2 linked regions of the Homo sapiens genome follow. The protein of the gene in region 1 interacts with the protein of each later gene in a pairwise test. Each region holds a gene or a part of one and is shown on either strand. Other genes may lie near its edges.

Region 1 (7,837 bases):
GTGTGGCGTGTGTGTGGTTTGTGGTGTGTGTGGCATATGTGTGGTTTGTAGTGTGTGTATGTGGCGTGTATGTGGTTTGTGGTGTGGTGTGGTATATGTAGCATGTGTATGGTTTGTGGTGTGTGGTGTGTATGTGGCATATGTGTGGTTTGTGATGTGTGGTGTGTGTGGCATGTGTGTGGTTTGCAGTGTGTAGTGTGTGTGGTTTGTGATGTGTGTGTGGCATATGTGTGGTTTGCAGTGTGTGTAGTGTGTGTGGTTTGTGATGTGTGGTGTGTGTGGCATGTGTGGTTTGCGGTGTGTGTGTGGTGTGTGGTGTGTATGGTGTGTGTGTGGGTGGTGGGGTGGTGTGTGTGTGGCATGTGTGTGGCTTGTGTGTGTGTGGCGTGTATGTGGTTTTGCGGTGTGTGTGGCATGTGTGTGGTTTGCGGTGTGTGTGTAGCATGTGTGTGGTTTGCAGTGTGGTGTGTGTGGCATGTGTGTGGTTTGTGGTATGGTATGCGTGGTGTGTGTGGTTTGTGGTGTGTGTGTGTCATGTGTGTGGTTTGCAGTGTGTGTGTGTGGCATGTGTTTGGTTTGCGGTATGTGTGTGGCGTGTGTGGTGTGTGTGGTTTGCAGTGTGTGTGGCGTGTGTGGTGTGTGATGTGTGGCATGTGGGGTTTGTGATGTGGTGTGTGTGTGGTGTGTGGTTTGCGGTGTGTGTGGCATGTGTGTGGCATGTGTGGGGTTTGTGATGAGCTGTGGTGTGTGGCGTGTGTGTGGTTGTGTGTGTGTGGCGTGTGTGTGGTATGTGTGTGGCATGTGTGGTTTGTGGTGTGTGTGTGACGTGTGGTTTGCAGTGGTGTGTGTGTGGTTTGTGGTGTGTGGCGTGTGTGTGGTTTGCAGTGTGGTGTGTGTGGCATGTGTGTGGTTTGTATGTGTGTGGCACGTGTGTGGGGTTTGCAGTGTGCTGTGCAGCATGTGTGTATAAGCGTGAGGCATGTGCGGGGTGTGCAGTGAGCAGTGCCCCGGTGTTCCTGTGAGGGTGTGGGCGTGGCCACCCTGACGCTGTCCCTGTCCCTGTCTTTGCAGGACGGCTGTCCTCAGCGAGGGGCCGTGCACCCGCTCCTGAGCAGCGCCATGGGCCTGCTGGCCTTCCTGAAGACCCAGTTCGTGCTGCACCTGCTGGTCGGCTTTGTCTTCGTGGTGAGTGGTCTGGTCATCAACTTCGTCCAGCTGTGCACGCTGGCGCTCTGGCCGGTCAGCAAGCAGCTCTACCGCCGCCTCAACTGCCGCCTCGCCTACTCACTCTGGAGCCGTGAGTGTCTGCTGGGCCAGTCCCTGCCGCCTGGGGCTCCCGTGGGGGTGGCGCGCGACCATGCACGGGGCAGCCGTGGGCTCTCAGGCAGGAAGTGAGGGCTATGCAGGAGGTGCCGAGGCCATCTGGCTGGCAGGCTGTCGGAAGGCACCTGGCTACCTCTTTTTCTTAGCTTGAGCTGTGTGACGTGCCACTCTCACCATTCTGACCCATAGCAATGGCAGCTTCCCACGGTTTACCAGAGCATATGGGAATGTTTAAACAAAAGTAAAGAGAATGTTGAGTTCTGTTTACCCGTTACCAAGCTCCAACAGCTCCCTACATGGCCCCTCGTGTGTCCTGCCCACACTGCGCCAACACCAGAGCATGCTGACGCGTATTTCAGCATGCATCCCTGAAAGAAAAGGTGTCCTGCCTCCCTGCGTATCAAACACATGTGTAGCTGTGTGTCTGTCCGTATGTGCCTCTGTGCGTATGTGTATTATACATAGAGAAACCGATCTGTACCTGTCATGTGGACAGAGACTCAGAGGCTTGGTAACAACACCCACTGTGGACAGGTAACCGCTCACACCGGGCGTCGTGGGGACATGAACAGGCGCATCTCTGGAGGGTGGTTTGGCAGTGGCCGTCAACAGTTTAAGTGGTTGCAATTTTCAACTCAGCAATTCCACAGAATAACATGCAACCTACAGAGATGTGCAAAAGTATGCAACTGGACAGGTGTTCTCATTTTATCACAGGTATTCTCATTATTGTATTATTTTTATAGTAGCACAAAACTAGAAGCAACCCAAGCACCTGTCACTGGAGACTAATTATGCGGCACCCATACAGGGACCCTCTGCGGCCATCATGGAGAGCCTTCATCTTGCCCGTACAGTTTTAAGCGAAAAAGGAAGTATACAACAAAGTCCATAGTATGCTATGATTCATTTTGTGTCTTAAGAAAGGATGCTGTGTGTGTGGTGTGTACATGTGTGGAAAAATCCCAGAAGGGGCTGGGCATGGTGGCTCATGCCTGTAATCCCAGCACTTTGAGAGGCTGAGGCAGGTGGATCACCTGAGGTCAGGAGTTCAAGGCCAGCCTGAGCAACATGGTGAAACCCTGTCTCTACTAAAAATACAAAATTAGCTGAGCATGGTGGTACACACCTGTAATCCCAGCTACTCGGGAGGCTGAGGCAGGAGAACTGCTTGAACCTGGGAGGTGGAGGCTGCAGTGAGCTGAGATCACACCACTGCACCACTCCAGCCTGGGCAACAGAGCAAGACTCTGTCTAAAAAAAAAAAAAAAGAAAACAAAAATCTCAGAAGGATGCCCGAGAAAACTGCGTGATGCTGATATCCAGGGAGTGGGGAAAGGAGGGGATTCTTACGTTTTATTTCACACTCTCATGCTGTTTCCATGTTTTTGCATGAGCGCATAGACACTTCGTCTCATATGGGAAACGGTGAGCGCATAGACACTTTGTCTCGTGGGAAACGGTAAGCGCGTAGACACTTTGTCTCACGTGAGAAATGGTGAACCCACATACACTTTGTCTCATATGGGAAACGGTGAGCGCATAGACACTTTGTCTCATGTGGGAAAGGGTGAGCACGTAGACACTTTGTCTCATATGGAAAACAGTGAACGCGTAGACACTTTGTCTCGTGGGAAACGGTGAGCGCGTATACACTTTGTCTCATATGGAAAACAGTGAGCGCGTAGACACTTTGTCTCGTGGGAAATGGTGAACCCACATACACTTTGTCTCATATGGGAAACGGTGAGCGCGTATACGCTTTGTCTCATGTGGGAAATGGTGAGCGCATAGATACTTTGTCTCATGTGGGAAATGGTGAACCCACATACACTTTGTCTCATATGGAAAACGGTGAGCGCGTATACACTTTGTCTCATGTAGGAAATGGTGAGCGCATAGACACTTTGTCTCATATGGGAAATGGCTGGCCTGTAACCTTGTCTGCACGATCTCCTTCCAGTTCAGGAGCCGGTAGCACTGCTGAAAAGGCTGTTTATGTCAGCTAACTTTTCATGCCTGCGACACCCCACTGTCTGCAGAGAGACTAGTAACCCAGCCCTTAGACTAGCTTGTCTTAAATGTGTTATAGCTTCAGTTCCTGGTTTGTTTTTTCTCTTTTTTTTTTTTTTTGAGACTGAGTCTCGCTCTGTTGCCCAGGCTGGAGTGCAGTGGTGCGATCTCGGCTCACTGCAAGCTCTGCCTCCTGGGTTCACGCCATTCTCCTGCCTCAGCCTCCCGAGTAGCTGGGACTACAGGCACCCGCCACCACTCCTGGCTAATTTTTTTTGTATTTTTAGTAGAGACGGGGTTTCACTGTGTTAGCCAGGATGGTTTTGATCTCCTGACCTCGTGATCTGCCCACCTCGGCCTCCGAAAGTGCTGGGATTACAGGCGTGAGCCACCGCGCCCGGCCAGTTTGTTTCCTTTTTTAAATGAAAGGCTGCTGCTTTTTTCTGTGGGAAGGGAGAATTGGAAATCCTATAATATAAAATATACAAATGAGTTATTCATGAGTATAACTGGATAAGATGAATACATACAAAAAGGGCAAATATTAACTGATGAAAACTAAATTACAGACTCCTACTTTCTAGCAGTATTCTGAAGCTAAAATACTACAAAACAGCTAAATCCTGCCTGAAACTGGCTTTTTAATGCATTTCTGGGCTCACAGTAAGGAAACAAAAACCTCTCAGCTCCACCCTTCCACCAAATCCCTTTAGCAAAAACCGGGGTGTGCAGAAATGGAATGTCAGCACTGCCTTTCAGGAGCCTAACCCTTGGGCAGCTGTAGCAGAGGGCGCTGAAGCTAAACCAGGACTCTTGAGCGAGGGCGCGAGACAAGCTAGGGTTAACAGTGACCCTTGGGTTTCAGCAGAGGCAAACGAAAGTACACTCTGGAGAAAGTCTCATTCAGGCCTGAAGAATCCCACAGATTAAGGAAAATTAAATATGAATTCATAATCAAGAATGACAACGTAAACAGCAGATGTGGACTGAAGATGACCCACTGTGCCCCGACTTGAAAGAGAACCAAGTAGAACTGCTCTCAGTGAGAACTGTAGATATTTTAAAGCAAAAACTTACAGACAGGTTTTGTATCAGATTAGATACAGTTAATGAGAATGGGTACAGAACCAAGTAGAACTGCTCTCAGTGAAAACTGTAGATATTTTAAAGCAAAACCGTATGGATGGATTTTGTATCAGATTAGACACAGTTAATGAGAGAATGGGTACACCAGACATCAATGTGAAGAAATCATCCAGTGACAGTAAAGGAGGTGAAAAATGTGAAATAGGCGTGAAAAGATGTAAGGACAGAATGAGAACCTTCATAAAATAGGGCTTTGGCCCCCATCCCCAAAGGAGAGAACAGGAGAAGCCTCCTGGGAAGAGAGGATGCCTGAGGACCTCCTGAACTGATGAAGGCACGATTTTTCAGATACAGGAAGCACATGTAGACCAAGCAGAGCGAATGCACAGAAATCCACACCTAGGCAGGCCCTGGGGCATCACAGACCATCAGAGACAAGGAGGAGCCGGGCGCGGTGGCTCACGCCTCTAATCCCAGCATTCCAGGAAGCTGAGGCAGGAGGATCCCCTGAGGTCAGGAGTTTGAGACCAGCCTGGCCAACATGGTGAAACCCCATCTCTACTAAAAATATAAAAATTAGCTGGGCCTGGTGGCACATGTCTAATCCCAGCTACTGGGGTGGCTGAGGCAGGGGAATCATTTGAACCTGGTCGGTGGAGGTTGCAGTGAGCCGAGACTGCATCACTGCACTCCAGCCTGGGTGACAGAGTGAGACTCTGTCTCAAAAAAAAAAAAAAAAAAAAAAAGATAAGGAAGTCTTCGAATCCCCGGAGAGGAAAGCTGGAGAACCACGCTGGATGGTCAGCAGTGAGGCCGACAGCAGATTTCTTACGGCAGGCAGCAGTGGCGGGAGAAGGTGGAAGATCCTCAATGTGCTGGAAAATCACCAACCTAGCACCCTGTGTTGTTCAAGAGTACAAATAAAATAAAAAGGTTTTGGTAAACAAAAAAATGAGAGCTTTTACTGCCCATAGATCTTCACTTCAATATTTTTTAAGGATGTGTTTCAGTAAGAACAAAAATTATAAAAGTAGGGTATAATTTTCAAGAAAGAATGGTAGCCAAAGAAATTAGGAGATGGATGAATCTAAACCGTATGTAAAATAAAAACAGTGCTCAGCCGGGCGCAGTGGGTCACGCCTGTAATCCCAGCACTTTGGGAGGCCAAGGTGGGCGGATCACCTGAGGTCAGGAGTTCAAGACCAGCCTGGTCAACATGGTGAAACCCCATCTCTACTAAAAATACAAAAATTAGCCTGGCATGGTGGTGGGCACCTGTGATCCCAGCTCCTCAGGAGGCAGAGGCAGGAGAATCGCTTGACCCTGGGAGGTGGAGGTTGCAGTGAGGTGAGACTGCACCACGCTCAGCTAATTTTTTGTTTTGTATTTTTATTAGAGATGGGGTTTCACCATGTTGCCCAGACTGGTCTCAAACTCCTGACCTCAGGTGATCCGCCCACCTCGGCCTCCCAAAGTGCTGGGATTACAGGCGGGAGCGCCCAGCCCAGGTTCAGATTTTAATGGTAACTTTGTTAAGTATAGGGTAGGAAAAAAGAGAGATCAAACATAGCTTCCAAAGTATTAGAAAAAGATAAAGAAAAAAAGGTAAATCTCTTTTGTTAATGCAAGAAAGTAGAAAGAAAAGCATTAAAATAAGAAATATTGAGGTATACATTAAGATCAATATAAAATTCCCAGATACTTGGGATGACCACAAATACACAAGAAAAGCACTTCAGTAAGAACAGAAATAATCGGCCTCTCCATCTGCTGGGCTTGCGTGGGTATGTGAATTCCGTCTGTGACTTGTTGGATTTGGGATGTTCTCCACTTAGATTTATTTCCATGAATATGTTTGTGGGAGCCTTTCTGCAGTCAGAGGTATGTGGAAGCCTTTGCCAGTTCAGGGGCGCATGGTGAGAGCAGACCTCACAGTGGGTTTGTTTATGTTTGTTTGTTTTTGAGACAGGGTCTTGCTCTGTCGCCCAGGCTGGAGTGCAGTGGTGTGATCTTGGCTCACTGCAATCTCTGCCTCCTGGGCTCAAGCAGTCCTCCTACCTCAGCCTCCTTGAGTAGCTGAGACCACAGGTGTGCACCATCATGCCCAGCTAATTTTTGTATTTTTTGTAGAGACAGGGTTTTGCCATGTTGCCCAGACTGGTCTCCAACTCCTAGGCTCATGTGATCCTCCTGCCTCAGCCTGCTGGGCTGCTGGGATTACAGGCTGAGCCACCGCACCAGCCACAGTGTTTTCTGATGACCCTGAACCACGGTTTTATTTTCAATTCTTCATTCCTGTTCTCATTCCTTAATGCTGGGTGCCTTCTTGCTGCCCATTTTGAACTCACTGCCAGTGTGTCTCTGCTGTCATCTGATGTGCAGAGCTATAGGTGCTGCGGCGAAGGGTGCAGGTTTGGAGCCGTTTAAACAACCTGGCCCAGCCTCCTCACTCCCTGCTGACCTTGGTCAAGGCTTCAGTCTCTAAACCTCAGCTTTCTCATCTGCAGAGCACAGACAAAACCACCTGCCTTTGAGCTGTCTTATAAAGCCTAAATCAATGCGCACAGCAGGTACACAGCAATGCTTGATAAATTGTTACTATTATTGGGTGAATTTTAGGTTTTTTTTGTTGTTGTTGTTGTTTTGAGACAGAGTCTCTCTGTTGTCCTGGCTGGAGCACAGCAGTGCGATCTTGGCTCACTGCAACCTCCATCTTCTGAGGTTCAAGTGATTCTCGTGCCCCAGCCTCCCAAGTAGCTGGGATTACAGGTGCCTGCCACCACATCCAGCTAATTTTTTTTATTTTTAAGTAGAGATGGGCTTTTGCCATGCTTCCCCAGCTGGTCTTGAACTCCTGGCCTCAAGTGATCCTCCTGTCTCGGCCTCCCAAAGTGCTGGGATTACAGGCTTGAGCCACCGCACCCGTCCAGAATTTTAGATTTTTTTAAATCCGTGGTTGAAAAATAGGCTATGGCTGGCTTACTCATTGTGCTTTAGGGAAGCATGTATTTGAGTGAAGGAAATGATAAAAGGAATTTCATATCGGGCCCAGGCGCCGCCCACCCTGCAAGACAGTTTACAGATGCCTGCCCTGACAGCTGTCTGCAGTTAGCCAGCGTCAGCCGAGGGGTCCTGAGATCCGCTGAAGGCTGCCTTTGCATGCCGACAGCAAGGGAAAAGTGCCACATGTCCCTGGGCTTGCCACAGGTGACCTTTGGATGGGACCATTCTCCAGACAGCGCAGCTCGTCTTTCCAGAACACTCATGGGGAGTGTGCCTGTGTCTGGCTGGCTGTGTGGGCTCCCATTCAGTTCATTCCCCTTCTCCAGCCTTTAGGCATGACCCTAAAGGCAGAGGTCTCAAGCACTTGCCAGGGGTGAGCCAGCGGTGGGGGCGCCCCTGCCAGGGCAGGCCT
Region 2 (7,837 bases), on another chromosome or scaffold:
TTCTATAATTAATATAAAAAATAGCATTCCTCTTCTTCATCAAGTGCTCATGAGTACTTTTAAAATTTCCTTCTCAAAAACTTTACTGGAACTTTTTTACTACAATCAACAGAATAATGTAGTTTTATTTCCTAGGCAGCATTTCTGATAAGCATGAAATAGGGTAGACCACTCTCTCCCTCAATCATTACATAAAAACCAGTGCAAATACAATGAGTATTTCCTTCTGCTATGGCATAATGATCACTTCTGAGTCAATCTGTAGACTACAGAAGAATGTGATAGAAGAAGGTGAGTTATTTTATGTAAATAATGAAATAGATGTTCTAGAGTTCTATGTTATTGGTCAGATTAGGTTAGGTGATTCCGCAGTAATAAAAAGACCCCAAATCACAGTGGTTTAACACATAACAGTTTATTTCTTACACTTAAAAAGTTTACTGCAAGTCCATCAGCACTCCAGTCAGGTCCCTTCTAAACAGCGACCTAAGGACCCAGGTTGCATCCGTCTTGTAAGTATGCCATTTGGAACATCTTGCTTTCAGGTCACCATGACAGGCAAAAGAAAACTGGAGGGTCATGCAGAACTTTTTACAGTCCAACATGGAAATAGAAAATCACTTCTGTTTACAATCCCTCTGCTTGAAGTAGTCAAATGGCATTGCCTAACTACAAGAGGTTTGGAAGTGAACAGGAGCAGATAGATACATGATGAGCTGTAAATGCTTTTGCCATATTCTACAAATAATATAAGCTTATAAAAAGCATTTTAATGAACAATTCTGAAAAACTCTATATGGATACAAAATATCCCATAAATGTAATAGTTTTTATCAGCATAAACATATATTTTTAGGAAAAAGCTAAAGTTATGAAGCTCCAAGGTAATCTAACATGGCATCACTATAATGTTCCAAGAACTTTAATGAGAGATTCCAGTATTTCCAATGCAAAAAATTTGGCAGCCAACATGTTTATGTAGATGTTTTTTATCTTTATAATTTTACTTGTGATTGAAGGTAGCCGAGATAAAATCTGCTATTGAAAAACAATAGCTATTGAGCTTTTCATCATGCCAAAATACTTTGTACCTATGACATTACAATTAGCACATCCTCCATCACAGGTGGTTTTGAGACACAAATTTATAATTTATGTTACTCTGATATATAAAAATGTAAAGTAAAAATATTTTTTCACTTATTTTTACACTAGTGGTAAAAGTGAATCAGCAACAGATACAAGGCACCAAATTGTAGGAAAATACGGACACAGGAAGATCAATGATGTCATTATCATCTACATTTAACTTCTATATAAATTCAATATTAATGCTTAAGACAACAATCTTTTCAACAACAATCTTACTAAGATTTTGGCAGTAGTTTCATGTAACATACGGCGTACTAGAGGTCTGGCACTCAACTTGCGTACAGTAACCAGCTTCAATATGAAGGCATTACATATTTTTTAAAAAAAACCTTTTCACATGCTAAATATTTTGGCAAGGGTGCAATTAAACACAGTAATGAAATTAATATAGCAAGGCTAAGAAACTAAAAACTTGAAACTTATATCCTAAGCATAAATCATATCTTAAAAAAGGATCATCAGTTATATAGAATATGGTCAGATAATTAAAACTTAACAGTATAAAACATGCAAAAAAAATTTCAGAATATTTCTTAATCAAACAACATCAGGGTCTGTTTAGAATGGTTCCCATACAAAATGGGTATAAAGTTATTTCAAATCATGTAATATTGTAATACTAAATATTATTCAGTACTGTATAGTAAACAGTGCTGAAGAAGAGGTAAATTTCATAGATATGGGGGCTTACTTATGCTGTAAACTCCTGTCCTTCTTGTTCACTTGAAGCAGCATACAACACCCCAGAATTTCATAAAGTAAGAAAAGGACGGCTGCTGCTCTGGCAAAAATAGGATGTGTAAGAGTCAAAGGCACACTATTCAGCTAGCCACAGTGATTAGCAAACACTTGCCCTTCCCACCCCACATGCTCTTTCCCCATGTAAACAAAGATTCATTAAAGAAAAAAGGAAAATGAACTAAACTTATTTACAAAAGCAAGGAATTTGAGACATCAATATTAAGTCCTTGCATCAAAAATACCAACTACAATTGTCTGGAAATTACATTTATGTTTCATTGATGGTGATATTTCAAAGATGTATTCGAATTAGATACATTTAACCTTAGATACACTTTTTTTTGTCAAAGTTATTCATTATCTAACACATTTTACTTTAATTTCAAACATTTTATTCACTGGTATGACAACAGAATTTTAGCTCTCAGAGGAATTAACCATTAGAAGGAAGGACAAGCAAACAAACAAAAATGTATATTGAAGTTGCCAGCAGCCACTATGCCCCTTACTGGCACAGTGGGATTTGATAGGCAACTCAAAGTCCAGAAATAATTCTACTAACACAGGGGAACTCGGCAAACTCATTCTTGCTTTTTTTCTTGATGTTACCTTGACTTGTGACTTGATCCAGACTTCTTTTTCTTCTTCTTACTATGTTTCTTGTGCTGTTTCTTCTTCTTCTTCTTTACTTTTTCCTTTGCTTGTTCTCGCTCTTCACACCTTCTCTTCTTTTTTGCTTGCACATCCTCTTCATAATCTGATTCAGATGAGGACTCAGATGATAAAGGTTTATCATCAGGGTAACTTTTCTTTCTTTTTTTGCTGAGGCTTCTTACATCCTTTTCTTTCTCTGTTTCATCCTTTGACTTCTTTTTCTTTTTTACAGACTCCTTGCTCTCTGATTCTGATTCATGCGTAGAGCTTTGGGATGATTTGTATGAACGGTTCTTCTTTTTCTTTCTCCTTTTTCCTTGTTTCTTTTCCTCATCCTCAGAATCTGAAGAACTGCTTGAAGAATCAGAGCTTGATGAAGAAGATGAAGACCGACAAGATTTCTTCTTTCTCTTTTTCTTTCTTTCTCTTTTTTTAGATGAGCTCTCATTTCCACTTAATAATTTCTCTCTGCTTTTTTCAAGTTCTTTCTTCCAATTTTCATTCATTTTTTCTTCAAATTCAGCTAATGCTTTTGAACCTGTTTTTTTATTTTCTAATTGTTTCTTTACTTCTTCCCAGGTGGGTCTTGGTCGATTTAGATAATCTTGGATTGTTGGGCCCACAGATTGAGTTGGGCCTCTCCATCTGGCCATTGCTATAGGATTCATATAGGCTACCCGATTATCCCGCTTCCCCATGGTGCCTGATGTTTCCAAGGGCAGACTCTCAGTTGCCAAGGAGAACAAAGATAGATACTCGCCTTAAATTCTTTATCTAGTGAAATATCAAGCAAGCTCCATTCTGTAAGAGAAGCAGATGGAATGATTACAAATCACCTTTAATATAAAGACAAACAAACATATAAGCTTAATTGTTAACACTGCCTATCACACAGTACAGTAGAAATTTCCAAAATCTTATACCATGGGAACAAACAATATACACATTTTAAAATTTTACATATTATAGACACTGTGGTATAAACATAATATAAACTAAAAGTGTTTTATATACCTCATGTAAGATTCTGACAGATACCTAAAATATTTAATAGCCATTTTCTCTTACATTGTATGATACTTAACTTTTTCCTTTCTTTCATTCCTGCTTTATATAGTATATAGAGAGAAATTTATAAAACTAAAATCTGTACCAGACAGACCTTCGCCAACTCAAGAAAGTGCAACACAACCCTCTCCATTCCTTTTGACAGAAGCCCAGGAGTCATAACTGAGAAATCCTTCTCCCTCAACGGTCAAATCCAATACATTACTAAATCCTGATATTTAAACCTCCACAATAGGCCTCATATCCATTCACTTGTCTCCAAATATACTGTCATCAACTTAGCCCAGGCCACTATCATCTCTCGCTTGGGCTATTAATCTCTAGTACCTAGTAAGTGTTTATTCTCTGTCAAGGACTGCTTAGTGTTTGCAATGGATTATCTCATTCAATCTCAAGGCCAGACCTATGAAGTTGATCCTATCATTGTCTCTATTTCACAGATAGATAAACTGAGGCTTAGAGAATTAGAGTAAAACTCAAAATTTGAACATGAAGTAACATGGCTAATAAATGGCATATCCAGGATTTAAACAAAGGCAGCCTGATTCCAAGCTGCACAAATAAGGCAACACCAAATTGTCTCCTTACATCAACCTCTTAATAGGTAGCATTTTTCCAACCTTACTCCCTTTTATTCTAGTCCCACACTGTAAACAGAGGGATCTTAAAAAACTCCAGTGGTTTTATATTTTAATGAAAAACAAATCCAATCTCCTATAAGGTCCTATATGATCTGCCCTACTTCTGTCTCTTACTTTTGTTTTGTTTCACTCACCTTTTTTCTCAATTCTTTTCATTTGGTTCCTGGAACATGCCGAATTATAGGCTTAGCCAGCATGGCCAATTCCACCTCATCCTTCAGGTTTCAGCTTAAATGTCAATTCCTCAGAAAGTCAACCATTAGGTTAAACTATGTAAAACTATTTTATGGGACACAAACAGTTTAAAGATCAACAACTTTTTATGGCTCAACCTTATACTAAAGTGGTTTGCCTCTCTGTCTACCCCTCATCCTCATTTTTCTGTATGATAGTTCATCGTTTATTTTATTTGTAGCATTTATGAAATTGGTAATTATTTTATTTGTGATTATTGCGTTATACATGTGTATCCACTGCTAAATGTAAGACCAAGAAGGGTAAAGGTCATGTGTGGCCTATCTTATTCACCACGGTGTTCCCATTACCTGACATAGAATCTGATCCATATTAAGCACTCAATAAATATTTTCTCAATAATAAACAAATAAATAAATGCATGGATGGATGGATGGGTAACTCTGAGAGAAAGGAGGATTCAGAGGGAGTGTCCTGGAGATGGTGATGTCTGTATAGGGTCTTAAGGAATGAACAGGCATTTACCCAGAAAATGAGGAAATTAAGGACAATCTTGGCAGAGGAAACATGAGAAAAGAGCAGCAGGTATTTAGAGTTGATGGAACCTAAAGATCAAGAGGGCAGGGGGAAGGAGGTAAGTTTGCAGAGATAAAAAGAAGCCTAAATATGGAGGCCCTCTTAGGTCATTTGAAAATCTTGAATTTTGTCCTATAGTTGATACAAGAGCCAATAAAGTCTTTTATATAGAAGAGAAAGACGATCAGACATATAATAGATTTTTCTATCAATCTCCATCTTAAATCTGATCCTTTAAGTCAACCTAACATACCTACCCATCATAAGCTCAATGCTATAGACATTTCAGTGACTCTTGGTGATAGTTTCCAACATCTTATTTTCTGTGTTCTTGATCTTATTCTCCTTCCTCTTTATTTATAGGCAGCCCTTTTAGGTCTTTCTGTAATTTTCATTCTTACTCTTACCCTAACCACGTCTCAAATATCATTGTGTCTCTGATTTGACCATTCAAAACTCTTAAATACTTCAGTTCATATTCAACTTGCAGCTTCTTTCTGTTACTTGACACTTACAATAGAATAATCCATTCTAATTTCAGTCCCTTGAGACCTAGTCCTGACATCAGCTAGAAAGATAGGCGAAGGCCAGTTAACAAAGGCTTTGGGTGGTATGCTAAGGTGGTTGGAATCTCTCCTGTGGGATTTACAGTGAAGCTAACGGGGAGACACTATTTTAAGCAGAAAAATGATATGGTCATATTTGAGTGTTTAAGGACAATTATTTGCCCAGTGACAGACGGATTGAAGTCAGGTTAAGACAGAAGGCAATGGGACCACTTAAAAATTCATGTAGACAAGAAATGAAAGAGTCTGAACTCAAACAGCAACACTGTGAATGAAAAGAATGAGAAATATATGAGACATGTTGAGAAGATTCTATTGAAATTAGTGACAAATTGGATACAAAGGATGAAAAAGAGAAAGAAATCTGGGGTAAGGCTCTGGCTCGACACATTAGACCAAAGGCAATGACAATGACTAGGTAATAGAGAAAATGGCACAGACTTCGAGAAAAGGTTCTAGTTTCCATTTTGGACTCCTGAAGTTTGAAGTGCCTATGAGATTTATGGACAATTATCCATGTAAGAAAGAGGATGTATGGGATTTGGCACTTTGGAAAGTGATCTGAGTTAGAAATACTGAACTGGCAGTCGCTGAGTGATAGCTAGGGTCATGAGAGAAAACTAAATTATTTTGCAGGGAAATTTCAAGTGGAAAAAAGTTTGAGACTGGATCCAACTGAACACCAACATGCAAGGGGTTGGCAGTGAATGAAAAACCTACAAAGTATGCATTAAGAAATTAGCCAGAGTAGTAAGAGCTGGACCAGTATCAGAAAAGAAAGAGTCAAGAAACACAGGGTGAATAAAGTTTCAAGGTGAGCATAAGAATCCTTATGACTCTGTAATGTTTAAATTTTCTACAAAAAACAAGTATTATCCTTACCTTTGAAAAATTCATAAAAATAGAAAAGATTTGTTACAGACAACAGTATTAAATGCAGAAGATCAGTCAAGTTCAGATCTGAAAATGTCCATTATACTTAGCTATCAAGAAGTCATTAGTAACCTTTGCTAATGCAATCTCAGCTAAGTGGTGAAGGCACAAGCCAGGTGACAGTGGGTTAAAAGACTGAATTGAAGGTGAGAATGTAGAGACCTAGAGTACATAGTCACAGTCAATACGGAAAGTAAAGAGATAAGAAGGCAACCATGAAAGATGCAGAGTTAAAATTCTTTTGTGTTTTTTTTTACATGAAAGAAACTTGAGCATATTCATAGGGCATCTAGAAGGATAAAGTACAAAGAAAACATGTTTTAAAAACCTAGGTAAGAGAAGAAATAACTAATGTGGCAATATCACAGAGAAAACAGAAAGGAATGAAATTAAATTCAGAGATAGAAAGAATTTCTTCCCCCAAGAGCAGAGGCAAAGAATAAAGACAGGGAATGGATGCAGGATTTTTTGTAGGGTGGTAGGAGGTAAAAGGGAGAAAGATGAAGTATTTCTCACATAATAGCCTTCATTTTCATTCAGTGGTAAGTGCCAAGGTTGTCTGCTAAGATTAAGACAGGAGTTTTGAGACCAGTAATTAAAATTTGGAGTAACAACAGAGAATGGGAGAGGGTGTTGTCACCATGTAAGTGTTGCTGGAGTTCTTCTGAACTGAAGAATCTGTATGATCCTTTCCTAGAAGATAAATCAAATTGAGAAAAGAGAAAAAGTAACACCAACAAAGTCTCTTGCTCAAATACTCTGTTTTAAAAGCACTGTGGCTTATCTTCTCTGTTTCTATTATAGAACAAAGAGTAACTTGATTTTCTGTACATCTACTTATTTTCATGAAATATGCTAAAATCCTGTAAAGGTTAGATATAAATTGTGACAATCATGCTAGTAATCTGGATATTATAATAATATTTGTTCATTGATTCTTACAATTCCCTTTTGATAATCTATTATGTGCCAAGATACTATGCAATGGATATTACAGTTTAGTAAAGGTAATAGTTATTACACAAATATGAAACAAATGAGTATATAATCATAATCATGACTGGGGAGATGAAGGAAAAGTACAGGATGCTATGAAAGAAACAGAGACCTAATTCAGAAGGGAAGGTCAAGTCTGAGATACTGACATATCATCTGAGACACTGACATATCATCTGAGACCTGTGGTATAAACCAGAGCTAGCCAGAAAAAGCAGTTAAACAGGATGGGAGTAATAAAAGAGCCAAAATTGTTTGAATGCCCCAATCAGAAGGAATATCAGATGCTAAGGCCTTGAGGTACAAAGGAAAAGC

The links.
Region 2: the proteins of AGPAT3 (region 1) and FAM133A interact in binary tests that used the Homo sapiens proteins (3 or more experiments, as listed by UniProt).

The regions. Positions count from the first base shown.
Region 1 is NC_000021.9:43,958,563-43,966,399, forward strand, and holds part of AGPAT3 (1-acyl-sn-glycerol-3-phosphate acyltransferase gamma), read left to right. Parts: intron 1-1,071; coding exon of another isoform or gene 1,072-1,119; coding exon 1,120-1,297; intron 1,298-2,069; exon of another isoform or gene 2,070-2,217; intron 2,218-7,837. UniProt on the Homo sapiens protein: Converts 1-acyl-sn-glycerol-3-phosphate (lysophosphatidic acid or LPA) into 1,2-diacyl-sn-glycerol-3-phosphate (phosphatidic acid or PA) by incorporating an acyl moiety at the sn-2 position of the glycerol backbone.
Region 2 is NC_000023.11:93,704,828-93,712,664, reverse strand, and holds the end of FAM133A (protein FAM133A), read right to left. Parts: intron 7,220-7,837; exon of another isoform or gene 4,391-7,219; intron 3,349-4,390; 5' UTR 3,246-3,348; coding exon 2,499-3,245; 3' UTR 400-2,498; downstream 1-399.